Regions from separate parts of the Homo sapiens genome. Here all the other regions are reported to be linked to region 5. Evidence: microRNA targets listed by miRTarBase, many of them from high-throughput screens and not tested one by one. Region 5 holds a microRNA gene; each other region holds the end of a gene's coding sequence.

Region 1 (3,000 bases), not on the chromosome of region 5:
CAATCTCAGCTCACTGCAACCTCCGCCTCCTGGGTTCAAGCGATTCCCCTGCCTCAGCCTCCCGAGTAGCTGGGACTACAGGCACGTGCCACCACACCCAGCTAATTTTTGTAATTTTAGTAGAGACAGGGTTTCACCATGTTGGCCAGGATGGTCTCCATCTTTTGACCTTGTGATCTGCCCGACTCGACCTCCCAAAGTGCTGGGATTACAGGCGTGAGCCACCATGCCCGGCCATGCCTGTGATTTTTAAATTCTTAAACATGTATTATTTATAACTTAAGACATAAAGACACTATAGTCACATAGGAGAAAACAATTATAATCCAAATGAGAAACAAAAGATCTAAATTAAGGAGGTGTGAAGATAATGTAGAGGTTGTATACTATGACCATTTTAGAAAGAGGATTGTAGGTTTTATTGACTAAGAAGATAAAGGGATGCAAATTAGTTATACAGGTTTTAATTCCAGACAACAGAATAGTGGCTATTAACAATAAAATCAGTAAGTATTCTGGACATGTTTAACTTGAATATTCAGGTAGGGGATTTTATTGGAAATACGGATCTAGAGCTAGTGGAAGAAGTTATATTTAGGAGTCATCCACAAAGAGGCTTGAGAAACAAATGAAAATGTATTGAGAAGTGCATAGAGAACAATGTTAAGGGGGCTGTGGGGAAAAAACAACATTTGGAAGATAACTGAAGGAAATCATAGAGGAAAAATAGTACAATCTAATTTTTCTCCCTAACTGAAAGCAAAACCACTTTTAATACTAAGAATTTATTATGATCTCTCCATGATACTACCGTTTTTTCAATCCCAACAATCATCATCACATCCCAGAGCCATCTCATGACAAGAGCTTTCTAAATACTAATTGCCTGAACACTGAAGAAAATTAATATCTGATACTAAGGTGTAACTTATTTCTCTGTAATTAAAAAAAAGGGGGCCAGGCACGGTAGCTCATGCCTGTAATCCCAGCACTTTGGGAGGCCGAGGTGGGTGGATCACCATCAGGAGTTAAAGACCAGCCTGGTCAAGATGGTGAAGCCCCATCTCTACTAAAAATACAAAAAAATAGCCGGGCGTGGTGGCGGGCGCCTGTAATCCCAGCTACTCGGGAGGGTGGGGCAGAGAACTGCTTGAACCTGGGAGGTGGAGGTTGCAGTGAGCTGAGAGCGTACCACTGCATTCCAGCCTGGGCAACAGAGTGAGACTCCGTCTCAAAAAAAAAAAAAAAAAAAAAAAGGCTTTCTGTTCTTGAAATATTCAAACTAGACAGGACAATTTTAACTGAAGCTGTTCTCACAACCCTGTTTTTCAGCTATTATAAGTTTGTTAATGGACAAACATGTTCATAACTGAAATTTTAAAATTACATAAAAGTATAATTCTATAACCTGCAGAACTAACATTTGATGCATTTTTCCTAGTCCTTTCAATGCTTAGTTTTTATTACATGTATGTAATATCACTTATTGAAGGCTTACTAAATACTGAACCCTGTATTAAAACACTTTCCTGTCTTGTCCTTCCAAACATCCTGACACTCAAAAGTTAAGTGATCTGCACAGGGTCATAGCTAGAATTTAAAAGCTGCTACTTACATCTCAGATATGACTCCAAAGCCCAATCTTCACTACAAAACTGCAATACCTGCTTTCCCTCTCCCCCACTTAGCATAGTTTCAGCATTTCCCAGAACATTAACAGTAATAATTTATTGGCAACTTGACCTCTTATTGTATACATACAGCATGATTTATTTTCCTATTCACCTAGTACTAGCCAAATGTGTATGTATATTGCTATTATAAACAACCCTGTGATTAACATCTTTCTATCAAGATCTGCCTCTACTTTGAACAGTTTCCTTATTGCCAATAGTTATTTTAAAATAAATAGTTATTTTAAAGGGAAATTGACACATACATATAACACACTCACGCAAAACTGGCAAGTAGCAGATAAGTGCTCTTCTAATTTCAGTTTCCTAGCTTTCATGTAGAATGAACAATTATAGTAATAAAGGCTGAAGGAAAACAAAGATATTATTGAGATACAACAGGGACAGTCTAAAACAGCATCAGAAAGCAAGTTCATGCTGTTCAACATTAGCAGGCAAGGGAAATAGGGAAAGAAATACGCAAACGTGGCTATCACAGAAAAGCCAGCTTATTACTTTAGGTTCTGTGGGAGACTACAGGTCACATAAAAGCAGTCTCAACAATAATGTGACCACATGTGCAATCAACATTTACAAAATGAAATTATATATCATGTATAACACAAATGTTTTGCCTATACTTTAATTTACAAAGCCACATACCGAATGACTGAAATGTACATAAACATTCTTTTATGATAGACCAGAACATCTATATTATCATGACTTAGAAAAAGAAAACAGATGCAAAATAGTGTTGAGAATTTCTGGCCTGAAATTACAAGACTAAGTGTGTGTGTGCATGCGTGTGTACATATATTTAAATCGTTTTATTCTCATTTGATCCTTTTGGCTGAACTTTATTCATATATTATCTGCCCTTCTTCTTATAATCTCTCTCATGAAAGATATCATTATCCAGTCATTGAAGCCAAACCCCCTTCACCAGCCCCCAATCTCTAGACATCAAGGGTTAACAAGACATCTTCCTAAATTTCTCCGGAATTAAGCTCTTCTCTGTTAGAATTTCCTTTCCAAGTCCATTTCTTCATAAATCTGGCATGTGAAATTTGAATTGCTCTGCCGCAGTTTTCTCTTCTTTAGTCAGTGGTGACAGCTAGAAAATAAATGATAAAATCTTTATTTCAAAAACTTTCAAAGACTTAAATCAGTTTAGTTAACTTCTGCATTGTCACACCAATAAATGTTTCCCTAAGCTTATACTATGTATGTAATCACAGATTTAGAAAGGCAAGGGAAAAAACAGATACTTGGCTATTTATATACAAGGTCCTATGATGTTTGAGCTTCTAAAGAACTTGCAATT
Region 2 (3,000 bases), not on the chromosome of region 5:
GATAAATATATCACAGAGTCCTTTTAAGAATCTCCCAACTCAGATTATCCTAGTGCATATAGAATGTTCAAAAACTGATTGATTGATTGATAGGTTCTGTAGGAATTCCAGTTTTTGAACATTCTATATGCACTAGGATAATCTGAGTTGGGAGATTCAATCAATCAATCAGTTTGAGTCTGGAACAGTACCAGAATGAATGAGAAGTACTATTATGTTCTTTTTGATAAGTGGGGAAAAATTTAAAAGCACAAATACGCATTTCTTATGAATTATCACAACGAATGTCAGTAATAGTTTATGAATATAAATAATGACTCAGTGAATTTACTCACTAAAAGATACTAAAGGAATATATTTAGTAGTTCACAATATCTATAATAGTTAGCAGTCCAAGTAGATGTTTGAGTGACATTCAGTCTCTTAAGAAATATTTACATCACAGATCTCAAAATGAAGGCAAGTCAGGCAGCTCTCAAGACAGAATTGCAGCTATGTGAGAAGGGGAAAGAAATAAATAGTTAAAATTTTAACTATACATATTCTGTTTTCAGCCTGTGAATGTAGTAGTTTCTAAAAGCAATGAAGATTTCCCTGAATATCACTTTTGTGCCTCAAGCTAGTTCTTATTCCTCTGTTAATGTCATTGGTTGCTCACCCCTCCAGAGGTATTTTCATATAAGAGTCAGAGTTTCAGGAAAAAGGTCTTATTTGTTTAAACCAAATCTGTTTTTCTCCAAGTGACATATAGTTTTTAAGAATATGCACACAATCCCTCATCAATCTCTGAACCACCAAAAAAAAAAAAAAAAGGAGTGCTGATTATACGTGGGAAAGATTATTTTCTTTTGTATTTAATACAGTGAATGTGTAGTCAGCATTACCATTGAACTAAACATCTGAAATTTGATACAGTGAAACAAATTAGTCATCTGTTAATGGTTACTATCCACTAGATACATCTGAGGTTGTAGAATATCAGGCTTATAGACATTTGAGTACACATTGTCAGCACAGAACATAAAAGTCTCACATAAGGTATAATTGAAAGTTATTTCAAACAGTTATCTCATCAATAAACTTTCTGTAGTAACATCATGTTCATGGAACATTATGTTTTTAGCAACAAACAGTGATGGTATGCAGACAGAAGCATGTCATTTTAAACATGATACATTAAATAAAGCATGTTGAGGTCAAAGCCTTTCTGTAGAAAGGGAATTTAATTGACATTCAAGCATAGTATATAAACAGATCAAAATAGTTCTATTATAAGAAATAGTATTTAACAACTTATCTCTAAAATAAAAATACTTTAAAAATCAGCTTCAATGAGATTACATTTATTGTTAAAGAATCTTCCTTTAGAGTGAAATATACATTTCTTTTAGCTTTTCTATAGTTTTTCCAGTATAACCCCCACTTTTACCCCATCCAAGTTTATTATTAATAAAGTAGTGCAAAGCATTGTCTGCTGCAATTTCAACTGAGTGTAGTCCCCTACCAAGTCAGGGAAGTAAGACATTCTCAACCAACCAAATTATTTTTTCTCCAGAGTTATGCTCCCTTAGTATACCAGGGAGTGAGATATAAAAACTACTTTAAGAGTCTTGGGAATGCAATTTTTAAGTATAGATTCTATGATAATAGTGAAACATTGATAAAGGCAACCACCACCCCCAAGCAGTTTATTTTATTTTACAAAACAGGTTTTCATGCATAATCAAGAATGATTTTTTTTAATAAATGAATGTAGTGAAACACTGGCATATCACTTAGCACACTGAATTCTCTACATTAAAATTCACACTAATAACAAAATCATAGTATGAATTAAAGCATTTCAGTAATCTAATGAGAAAGCAGGTTTTTTTTTTCTCTGAGAGCACTTGAGTATTTATTAAAATATTTTTAGATGCACAGATACAATCTGACACCAAAAGCGATATGGATATAGTTTCCTAGTATTTTTGATAACTGTACTTACTGGGTTGCTAATTTGCTAACTAACTGTATAAATTAAAGTAGTGGTAGGTATAAAAATTCAGATAGGCAATCGTTTATAAACTGGCAGTATTTATGTTATGTAGTCCTGTAGAGATTTTAAGGTTTTAGATGGAATGATTGATTGAAATTCTATAAAGAAAACTTTGTAACCTTCTGAGTATTGATTCTCTTGAGGGAGTGAATGTACCTTCACTTATTAGCTTAAAATTAGCCTAAGTCATACCTAAGTAATTTGCACAGGAGTGAATGTCGGGATCTAAAGCCAGAATATATGTTAAATTGAAATGTATCCATTCCATTATTCAGGCTTTGGAATTTCCCTCCCTTTTGAAATGTATAAAACATAGAAAAGTGTAATGGATTACTTTTCAGATAAAAAATAGTCGCATTAAAAAAAAACTTTAAAATCAAATCGACATTTACAATTGATGTAGATTTAATCAGAGCACAGGTGAGTATTTAATCCACTAGTAATTAGATAAGAATATATCTTCCAGTGTTATCATTCTTATATTTGTTCTTTCAGTGTGTTATATTATTATCCACAGCTAACAAGGTTTTGACACAGCAGTAGCAAAACCTTTATCAAGTTGAGTCTGTACAATAGAAGTATATATTCAAAGACATATGCCTTTGTACACTATTTACAGATTCTCTCGATCATGATAAAAAGGCAAAATAAATAAAAAGCAGAAAGAAAGGAAATGCTGCTGAGGCTGAGGGCTTTTTCTTTTATCTTCCCAAACAGATGCTGGTCTCCTCAGTGCTGGGAGCTGGCTAGCCAAGATTGTTTTTCTTTCTTTTATATGGGCTATGAGAAGGATCTGGTTTCAGTTCTTGGTATTGCACCTGTTTAAACAGAGTTCAGAGGAAGACTGGTCAGGTGGCCACTTTCTGGCAAAGAAAGGAACAGCAAAGGAATGAGAGACGGTGCTTGGGGGAAGAAAGTGCTCACTCTAGAAGCTGTATGGGATCTGCAGCTGAGATGCAGAA
Region 3 (3,000 bases), not on the chromosome of region 5:
ACAATGGACGCTTACACCCTCGTCCCCCTCACCCTCACAATAACGGGCAGAACTTGGGGGAGCTGGAGGTGGTGGCCTACTCTTCCCCAGGACACTCAGACACTGACCGTGATAACTCGTCCCTGACAGGGACACTCCTACACAAAGATTGTTGCGGGTCTGAAATGGCCTGTGAGACCCCCAATGCTGGAACAAGAGAGGACCCCACTGACACCCCAGCCACAGATAGTAGCAGGGCTGTTCATGGCCACAGTGGCCTCAAAAGGCAACGAATTGAATTGGAAGATACAGATTCAGAGAATTCCTCCTCAGAGAAGAAATTAAAAACATGATAAATACAAAGGGAAAACAAAAAGCTACAAAAGTAGCCTTACAAAAAAAAAAAAATTGTTTAGTGAATACAGAGGAAAGGAAAAACAAGTATTAAAGGCACATGAAACCAGGGCCTGAAATTTTGTGTCTGATGCTGCTCCCTTCTATCCAACATTCAACAACGGGTCTGAATGTCTAGCTGGCCATTGGCTTGTGCTGTGTTAAGAAAGGGGAAAAAAAAATAACCCAAGTGACTCCTTTCTAGTGAGACGTGAGCGTAGTGTGCCGCGCAAGGCTCTGTGGAAGTAAATCTTTGTTGAGACGTTCGACTTGTTCTTGTGTACGCACAATGGCACGTGTGCGCTTATTGTCTCATAAGACCTTCCTTTTAGTTCTCCATCAGAAAGGACCTATGAATTTGTACTTTTTGCCATCTCACCCTGTTTACATGCCATAGGTGTTCTGGTCTGGATGATGGGTGCCTGTTAAATCAGGTTGTGCTGCCAGTGAGTTGTAGATTTATGCTGGAAGAATGGAGAATGGAAACAGGCCTTCAGCCCATTGGCTGCGCTGGAGAGGAAAGCATGGTTCCTTTCTTAAAGAAATCTTCCATGTTTTCTCTAAGTAACACTTCTTTATTGAGCATTTAATGTGGACATACTATAAAAAAGAATTTTTAATGCTAATGAGAGGTTTAGCACTTAAGATCAGATTCAAGAGAATATAGATTCCTGATAAATTTCACTGTTTGCAAATTGAGCAGTGCTGCAACATGTACTGTATGAAGGCCATAAAATAGAGCTAGTCATGGATAACAGACTTTAACCAGTTAGGTGCTAGATCCTAAGAGGCACTCACAAGGCCAGCAGGTGCTTCCTTGGCTCCCATGATCGATCGAGGCATAGTGAAAGAAGGGCAAAGACAGCTTTCCAGAGCTTTGTGCTCAGGCTACTAAAGTAGTTGTTATAGGTGTGTTAACGAAGAAGCTTAGTGAGGAGCAGAATGTGGTACTATATTCATTTAACTCAACCCAGAACCATTGGTCAGAATTGGTGGGACTGGCATCTTCCCTCAGACTTGCAGTTGATAGAGGCTGTGGTGTTCTCACTAGACTTTGCAGAGCAGTAGGCATCTCAAGGTAACAGATTCTTATTGAGTAGGTCTATTAGGAGTCAGAAGGTGTTGGGGAGGAGTCTCTGGCTTATGACTCCTGGTTCCCATTAGTCTTAAGTCTTCTGGTTCCCATAAAAGACTCAGTTTTATTGAGGTAGATACAGGTTTAGAAGAGAAAAGAGCAACAGATTTTCAGCGTTGCAGTCACTCGGTTATCTATGAAGGGTTGTGCAAAACAGGAAGGTCTGGGAATGACCAGATATCTTGTTGGCATAAATGTTATGAAAAGGCAGAATACTGGCAAGAAATGAGGAAGAGAGAGAAAAACAATATAACTTTCTTGAGTGCAAAGGTGCTAGACAACTAGGAGCCCAGCTGGGATTGGTGTAGGGAGGGCCGAACGCTGACTAGTGTGGCCTCACTGCCCCAGGCTTCCTTTCAGAGGAAGGCCTGTCCTGCTGGAACTGGAGCCAAGGGGAGGCTGCCTATGAAGGCAGAAGATGTGGATGAATTCAGGCACTGGGGGTGGGGGGGTTATTTATAAACACAAGGTGGTTGGTTTAAGCCAAAAGGAGATACCATCCTGATAAGCTCTGTGAAAGAGAAGATGTGCCTGGTGTGTGTAATGCGGCTGGGGTATGAAAACACTGAGAAGGAGATGAAGGAGTGTGTGTAGCATGGGGGTGTGTACAACTTAACACCTGGACTTTTACTGGGGGAGTGGGAAAGTGATTCTGTAACCAACATTAGAATTACTTTGGATTTGTAATCAGATTGGTTCTATGATTTGTCTTTGACTATTCACAGATAATTGTAAATGCTGGTTTTATAAGCCCAAGTCATTTTACATTTGCTTTTCCAAAATGTATTAAATTGGAATTTTTTAATCCTTTATATACAAAAAAAATACGATCACTCAGTGTGTGTTTCTCTTCCCCTTCTTAGTCAGCACACCCAGTCCTTTATTTTATTCTATTCTATTTATTTTATTTTAATAAGTACTTAGCCTCTTCTGACTTCTCAAAGGACAATCGGATACATATCTTCCTGAAAAGAAGTAGTTAAAGTTCCCTTGGGAACTAGCTACTTGGTAGTTACAATTCCCAAATGCAGAACTTGGTCTTTTCATGTTAAAAGCCTTAATCTCATTTGGGTACTCAAAAGAGAAATCAGAGTTTATTCTGGTTAACTTGAGAAGCCAAGAAAGATCATTTTTAGCAAGTATGCCTTCCATCCTTGGCAGAGGCTTCCCAGCATCCTAGGCTCAGCTTACCGGGTGATAGGCCCCATAAGACACACACATGAGCAGGGTGAGAAATGCTTGCTTTATAGCTGCTCCACCCTCATCTCCAGAGATTTTGTGTCTATGGTTGTGGGTCTGGAAACCTGGCAGGAACCACTTCTAGAGTACCTTTGCCTAAACTCTTTTAGAATTGAGGCCCCAACTTTGATGGCACATTTAATACCCAATTTCTTCCATAATAGATATTTTTAATAGCAGGACAGATGGCACTGATTAGATCAAGAACTATTTGGAAGTGCCTCTTATGTTTTTTTCCTGCATTCTGTACATAA
Region 4 (3,000 bases), not on the chromosome of region 5:
CTCCCAGGCTCTGGCTGCCTGATAAAAAAATCCCAATTTTTGCCAAAACCTCAAATACCACAAAACACTAAAAGAACAGATGTGAGCAACTTATTTAAGTTCTACATTTAGTAGCTGATGGACACATAAGGCTTTCAAGAAGACACTCTTCTCTTCACAACATATTAAATAAGTCCTAGCACAACTGACTGCTTCCAAAACTACCACCCAAGCGTGCCACCACTCTTGGCTGAACAGAAACTCTTCCTCATGACAAGGGCACTATGCTGATTTCAGCAGAACTGAAGGACCACGACTCTCCCAGAATATCTGTATTTTTACCTCTCAGACTTCTCCTGCAATGTCCTAATGATCATGTAAATAGTCTTCAATGAGAAACAGGACATCAAACCTTCCAAACAGGCAGAAAATGCTCTGCTAATACCATGGGAGAGGGTGATCAGTTTTTGGCAGAACAAAATGGCATCACCACCTTAGTACTGAAATTAGTAGGAGTAATAGAACAATTTCTCCTCAAATATAATGGCTAGGATCATACCTAAAACCCACTGGCCTCTACCATGAGTGAAAGAAAAGGAGACAATAGGCTTGATTGTACAATCCCCTCAGTATACGTGTGTCAGGTACACAGAGAAAAGACTGCTAACCAGTAACGTTTCAATACTAAGAGAAGCTATTAATGTGGCAAACAACCAAGAGGTAATATCTAGTTTCTAGGTTTAAAAAAAAACAATATATATATATATTTATAATAAAGTTTTAAATACAAAGTGCTTTTTATATATCGAGAATGATACAGTGTTGTGAATAAATCCCTGTTTGTAATCTTGCTTACAAGAGTTAACTGGTAAATAAGTATTTTCTTTCCTCTTTCCAGACAATGTTCAACAAGTAAACACCCTGGTGTTAGGAGCTTGAGAATCAGAGGCCATTGCCAGCAATGTCTATTACATTACAGCAAAGCCAAACTTTTCAAATAAAATTTCACCCCAAATCCAAGAAAAATTATTTTTATTTTAAGAAAAAAAAGTTTCTATTTAGAAGTAAATAACCCAGTACGATTGTGGAAAAGATGACATGGTAGTAGCACCCTGTCCTACCCTGGTGATAACCTCAGGTATGTTACACAGCTTAAAAGCATGTGCAATATTACCTTTCTTTTTAACCTAAATCATCTAACTGATGGGCAGAAAAGGTCTCAGAATAGTTGCTTTTCTTGTTTGTTTTTTTAATTTTTTTTTTCTGGTCGGCGTAGCTTTGTGGACTTTTAAGTTTAAGCAGCTTTATCTATAATGTGGGAGCATGGTTCTGTAGACTACCTTGCTAAACTTAGGACTCCTTTTACAAACACATTCCAGTGCTCATAAAGAACTGGTAGTATTAGCTCAGTGTACCCTCTAAAGAGTATCTCCCCCACCTTGAAAGAGTGTATTCTCAAGATTCTTCTTGGGCAGTTTTGTCCCCCTTAAGTATAACCACTCATAGAATCCTGCCTATCTGCCCTCTCACTCTGGTTGGTGGAGTGTCACCTTAGCACTCTATGAACTACTCAAGTTCACAGGGAACTCTCAGCCACAACTTGTGGCTCCTTCTCACTAAGTGTGGTCATGGACCACTCTCTTTGTAAAGCACCATAATCTAAGACAGAGCAGGGGCTGTGGCAGCCCGTGGTACCGTGGTCAGTCACAGCAGCTTGGTGTCTACCAGCCACAGAGAAGACCCCACTGTATGGAGGCTACAATTAACCAAACAGGATTTGGGAAAGCAAACCAATGAGAAATACCTATCTCTGGCACCCTAGAGAATTACAATTAGATAAAATTGTCCAAACTCAATGTTAGAACTAAAATACAAAACACTGCCTTATCAAGAGTCTGAAACACCTTGTGACAGTAGTGGCATCTTACAGAAACTGACAAGGGCACTATGTCAGCCTTGTACCGTAAATTATCTGTTTCATATTTAGAAAGTCACTCTCTTAGCATCTCCATAGTTTTAGTTAAAATATCCTTTAGAAAGACTAAAACCAGACAACAGAGCTCTGTTAACCAATTTCTCATCCTAGGAATCACATTATTTCTAGCTTTTATATAAGTAGCACTTCCTTCAGTGAAATAGCTACCAAAACAAATCCACATTACCTAAGTATCTATAGCAAGAGCAAAATAAAATTTCAGCATGACCTTGTAATAATGAGTGATCCAAAGCTGCTGCCACCCAAAATGGAACTGGTGGGTGGAGTCCAGTTCCAAGTGCAGGTGTCTCTGTCCACCTGTTTCGATCACAACCAGTCAGAAGGTTTCCCTTGCCAGCTGGGCGGTGGGTTAACTCACCCCATTACCCATTCCAGGCCAGGACTGGAACACACAAATTTGAGGAATTAGATTTTTTTAATTGGCCTACTTAGAGCTGGTCTTTCAGAAATATCTTCCTTTTTTTTTTTAAGCTTCTCTCATAATAGCAAGTAGCACGCATCATCTGTGCCCAGATTTGCATTAATTACCATAGTTTATTTTTGTGCATGCCACTCAAGGGCCAGATCCTATTTTTAGTTAGCCTCAGTTGTATTCTGCTCAGCCTTTGCAGCTTCGTAGGACTTAGTACAAGAAGTCACATGCCGGTGGAAACTGTCCCTCCACATAAACCTCTTTGCACAGATATTACACTCATACGGCTTTATGCCTGTGTGAATTTTCATGTGGCCCACGAGATGGTGCTTCATTTTGAATTTCTTACCGCAGACCCCACAGCCGTAAGGCCGAAGACCGAGGTGCATGCTCATGTGCCGATCTCTCTGACTCTTGTGAGTGAAACTTTTCCCACACTGACAAGGATACAGCTTGTCAGTGGCTGAGAATCCTAAGTGGGAAGCTTCTTCTTTAATCCCTGTTACCATTTCAATATTCTCACTGTAACCTGCTGCGAGGGCAGCCTCCTGTCTGTGCCCAATTAGATTCCCATCTGACCTCTCTCCGGAAAACTCTTCCATGGAAGAGCCAT
Region 5 (3,153 bases):
CTGATTTGTGAACAACAGTAAGAATGTATTGTGCCAACTCTGATACATGGTTTACTTTTTCCCAAACTAAGATGGAGGCTTTCTTAAGTGTCTAGAAAACTGAAATACTTGACCCTAGCAAGTATAATAAAGAGTATAATAACTTGGGGGAATCCAGAGTAATTGACTATCCAGCAATTGTACTATGCCTTTTCCTCCACTCTGAGAGTTTGAACAAAAGAATTCAATGACCTGATCTTTTTAACAAAATTAAAAATTTAAATGTCCTCATTTTTGAAAAACCTAAACTCAGTGCTCATAGGTTATTTGGCATAGAGCAAGAATTTGGTTAAAGAGGAATATGAAGTGGAACTTGGTTTTTAAGTCATACATAGCAGATGTTTAGGTGTGTGTTTTCCACACTTAAATGAGGCCACAGAATCTTAGAAAGACTTTAACTCACCCCCTACCCCCCTCCAGCAGGATCATTGCTCCCTTTGCTGGAGAGTTTGCTTTTTTCTTTTTAATGTTTGTCTTCCTTAATGTCAGCATGCCTGTTTTTCCAGCCACCCAAGCACTTTGTTTTATAAACATTCAGCTGTCAATATAAAAGACTATAAAAGAACACCTGCTCTCGTGGCTTTAAAGTGCTAAATGCTCCTCTCCCTTTTAGTCGTCAGATGTTTAAATGAATTTGTCTGCTCTCTGGATGTCATCTTTTTTCCTACAGGAAAAAAGTTTTGTGCCTCCAAGTTTTGTGATTAGTTTAGGCCTAGTTGAACTTAGGCCTACATCCAATCGATTGAATCCCATTGGGTAGCCTCTGAATGGTTAGTCTGTTATTTTTTATAGTATGAGTGAAGTCTTTTTATTATAATAATATTTATTGAAGGAATTCTGCATTCAGAAGGGTCTGTTGAACATTGAAGCATAAGTGGACAAAGCTGGGACTTGAGCCAGATCATTGTCCAGGTTCAGGGAGGCTCTGAAAATTAGCTAAGAGCTGGAGGTACCCTTCTGATGGTAAGCGGAAACAAATGAGTGACCAAAAAGAGTAAAGATGCATCATTGAGATTCATGTGGCTGTAGGTAACCACAGCAACAAGAAAAAAAAAATCTCAAACCTGCTTAATCAAGAAAGAGACTCCTAGCTCTGGAAGTAGAGCCAAAAGATGTACTTCAGGATTGATGAGTCCAGTGGCTCTGGTCCATTTCCCTGCCATTCCCTTGGCTTCAATTTACTCCCAGGGCTGGCAGTGACATGGGTCAAGGCTCACACCTTCACCTGGCAGCACCAGAGGGAAGGACCTTTTAAGAAGCCCTCAGCAACTTCTTGTGTTTCATTGGCCTAGAGTGAATCATACACTTATTGTTAAACCAGTCACTGCAAAGAACAGATTTACCTACACATCAGATAAACCTACTTTCAGAATTAAGATTAGGTCCTCTTCTCTAAGACCAGAGTTTCTCAAACTCAATATTATTGACATCATAGGCCAGATAATTCTTTGTTGTTGGGGGCTATTCTGTATCTTATAGGATGTTTAATAGCATCCTTCACTTCCGTGCACTAGATTCTAGGAGTTGCCCCTCCTTGGGACAACTAAAAATGCCTCCAGGCTTGGTGCAGTTGCTCATGCCTGTAATCCCAGCATTTGGGGAGGCCGAGGTTGGAGGATTGTTTGGGCCTAGGAGTTCGAGACCAGCCTAGGCAACATAGTAAGACTTCGTCTTCATAAAAACAAAAAATAAACAAAATTAGGTGGGCGTGGTGGTGTGCACCTGTGCTCCAGCTACTTCGGAGGCTGCTATGGGAGGATCGCTTGAGCCCAGGATGTTGGGGCTGCAGTGAGCTGAGATCGCACCACTGCACTCCAACTTAGGTGACAGAGCAAGACCGTGTCTCAAAAAAAAAAAAAGCCTCCAGACATTGCCAAATGTCTTTTTGGGGGCAAAACTCTTTCCCCACATCCCCCTGTTTGAGAACCATGGACCTAAACACATGAAGACACCTAAATAACACACCAGCTTAGGTAAGAAGTAGGGAATAGGAATATTCACCACACAAAAGTCTTGAAATAGGAAGAAAATAAGGAACCTTTGTAAGGTAGAGAGGCCACAGGGAATGATGGCATCACCCCCAATGTCATGACCACTGGTGAGTCAAGACCTAGATGCTTAAACCAAGAGCAGAAGACAAGCACTGCCCAAGGGAAGAACCAGTGACTTTTTTAGGCATCTCAAACAGAGCATAGAGAAATCAACCAGGAGCAAGAGACAGAGGCAAGTAAGGACCATATCTGGAAGCTAGTGACAGACATTCAGGGAAGAAACAAGGATACAGAAATGTCTTTCTCTCCCAAGGCCAGGATCAGCATGACCATGGGGCACAGGAAGTTCGATGGAGCTCAGAGTTACAGGAAATGCCTTGGGTGCTTATATCCAGAGAAAATGCTAGAAGCAGCTTCTTAAAGGGGAAGAGGATCCCACTAGACTTAATACGGTCTCTGCCCACATCATTGTGGAGCTAGATATCTGTGGAACTTAGCCTAAGGCTTTCACCTTAGACGTGACTGAAGTGGAAGAAATGGAATCAGGTCCCTACAGGTTGCCAAATTGGTGGCAGCTCTGTTGGAGTTAGGAAGGATGCACTCAGAAAATCTGTGCGCTACTCTGCATTTGTTTTTCTTTGATATGCCTGAAGTGATTTAATTAAGCTGTATGTGAAAATCTCCATGTTAGCTCCAACTATAATAAAAAGCAAAAAAATGTATTTCATACTTCATGGGATGAAGAAGAAGATTAGACCCTGGAGCCTGGGTGAGATGGAAATACTGTTGGCAAAGAGCTGCTCCAGGGGACTTGAAGGGACTTTTTTACTGTACTATGAATGACTGGACCCTGTATTGTCTAATTATCCTTAATACCAAAGACAGGGCATCTGTGAGAATCTGAGAGGTACTAAGAAAGGCTCTGTGCTCTAAAACCATTTCCTCCACTGGCTTTATCAGAGAGAAACCCCACATTTCACATCATTGTTAAAGAGCCTCTACAGAAATTCAGTTACCAGCTGAGAAAAATAATGAAGCCTCCCCAACAGGCCTCTGGGACCCCTTGAGTTGCCACCAGGAACTGGGGTACAACAGAAGAGGAGGTTACTTTCTCAAATGCAAG

Evidence for each region. Region 5 holds the annotated microRNA hsa-miR-4446-5p (AUUUCCCUGCCAUUCCCUUGGC, at 1,190-1,211, shown strand). A microRNA usually pairs through its seed, bases 2 to 8, with sites in the 3' UTR of a target mRNA and lowers its output. Matches are read on the target gene's strand: a 7mer-m8 pairs with bases 2 to 8, a 7mer-A1 pairs with bases 2 to 7 and ends in A, and an 8mer does both.
Region 1: the mRNA of SKA2 is a reported target of hsa-miR-4446-5p. Seed matches in the 3' UTR shown: 7mer-m8 at 1,669-1,675.
Region 2: miRTarBase lists MCTP1 as a target of hsa-miR-4446-5p. Seed matches in the 3' UTR shown: 7mer-m8 at 2,323-2,329 and 7mer-m8 at 590-596.
Region 3: miRTarBase lists DCAF5 as a target of hsa-miR-4446-5p. Seed matches in the 3' UTR shown: 8mer at 342-349 and 7mer-A1 at 543-549.
Region 4: miRTarBase lists ZBTB43 as a target of hsa-miR-4446-5p. Seed matches in the 3' UTR shown: 7mer-m8 at 2,300-2,306.

The regions. Positions count from the first base shown.
Region 1 is chr17:59,109,556-59,112,555 of GRCh38, forward strand. SKA2 (spindle and kinetochore associated complex subunit 2) reads right to left here. Exons shown (of 4, transcript NM_182620.4): 4 at 302-2,790. The coding sequence ends at 2,722. The region is part of intron 1 of LOC124904039 (a long non-coding RNA gene); the gene reads left to right. Among named protein-coding and RNA genes, the nearest start is that of TRIM37, 4.2 kb to the left of the region's middle.
Region 2 is chr5:94,704,712-94,707,711 of GRCh38, forward strand. MCTP1 (multiple C2 and transmembrane domain containing 1) reads right to left here. Exons shown (of 23, transcript NM_024717.7): 23 at 1-2,856. The coding sequence ends at 2,785. Among named protein-coding and RNA genes, the nearest start is that of SLF1, 88 kb to the left of the region's middle.
Region 3 is chr14:69,051,189-69,054,188 of GRCh38, reverse strand. It overlaps DCAF5 (DDB1 and CUL4 associated factor 5), which reads left to right. Exons shown (of 9, transcript NM_003861.3): 9 at 1-3,000. The coding sequence ends at 332. Among named protein-coding and RNA genes, the nearest start is that of ACTN1-DT, 73 kb to the right of the region's middle.
Region 4 is chr9:126,833,462-126,836,461 of GRCh38, reverse strand. ZBTB43 (zinc finger and BTB domain containing 43) reads right to left here. Exons shown (of 3, transcript NM_014007.4): 3 at 1-3,000. The coding sequence ends at 2,549. Among named protein-coding and RNA genes, the nearest start is that of ZBTB34, 26 kb to the left of the region's middle. RefSeq lists an enhancer at 2,755-3,000.
Region 5 is chr3:113,593,694-113,596,846 of GRCh38, forward strand. MIR4446 (microRNA 4446) reads left to right here and starts at 1,183; the gene lies at 1,183-1,249. The region is part of intron 10 of SIDT1 (SID1 transmembrane family member 1); the gene reads left to right.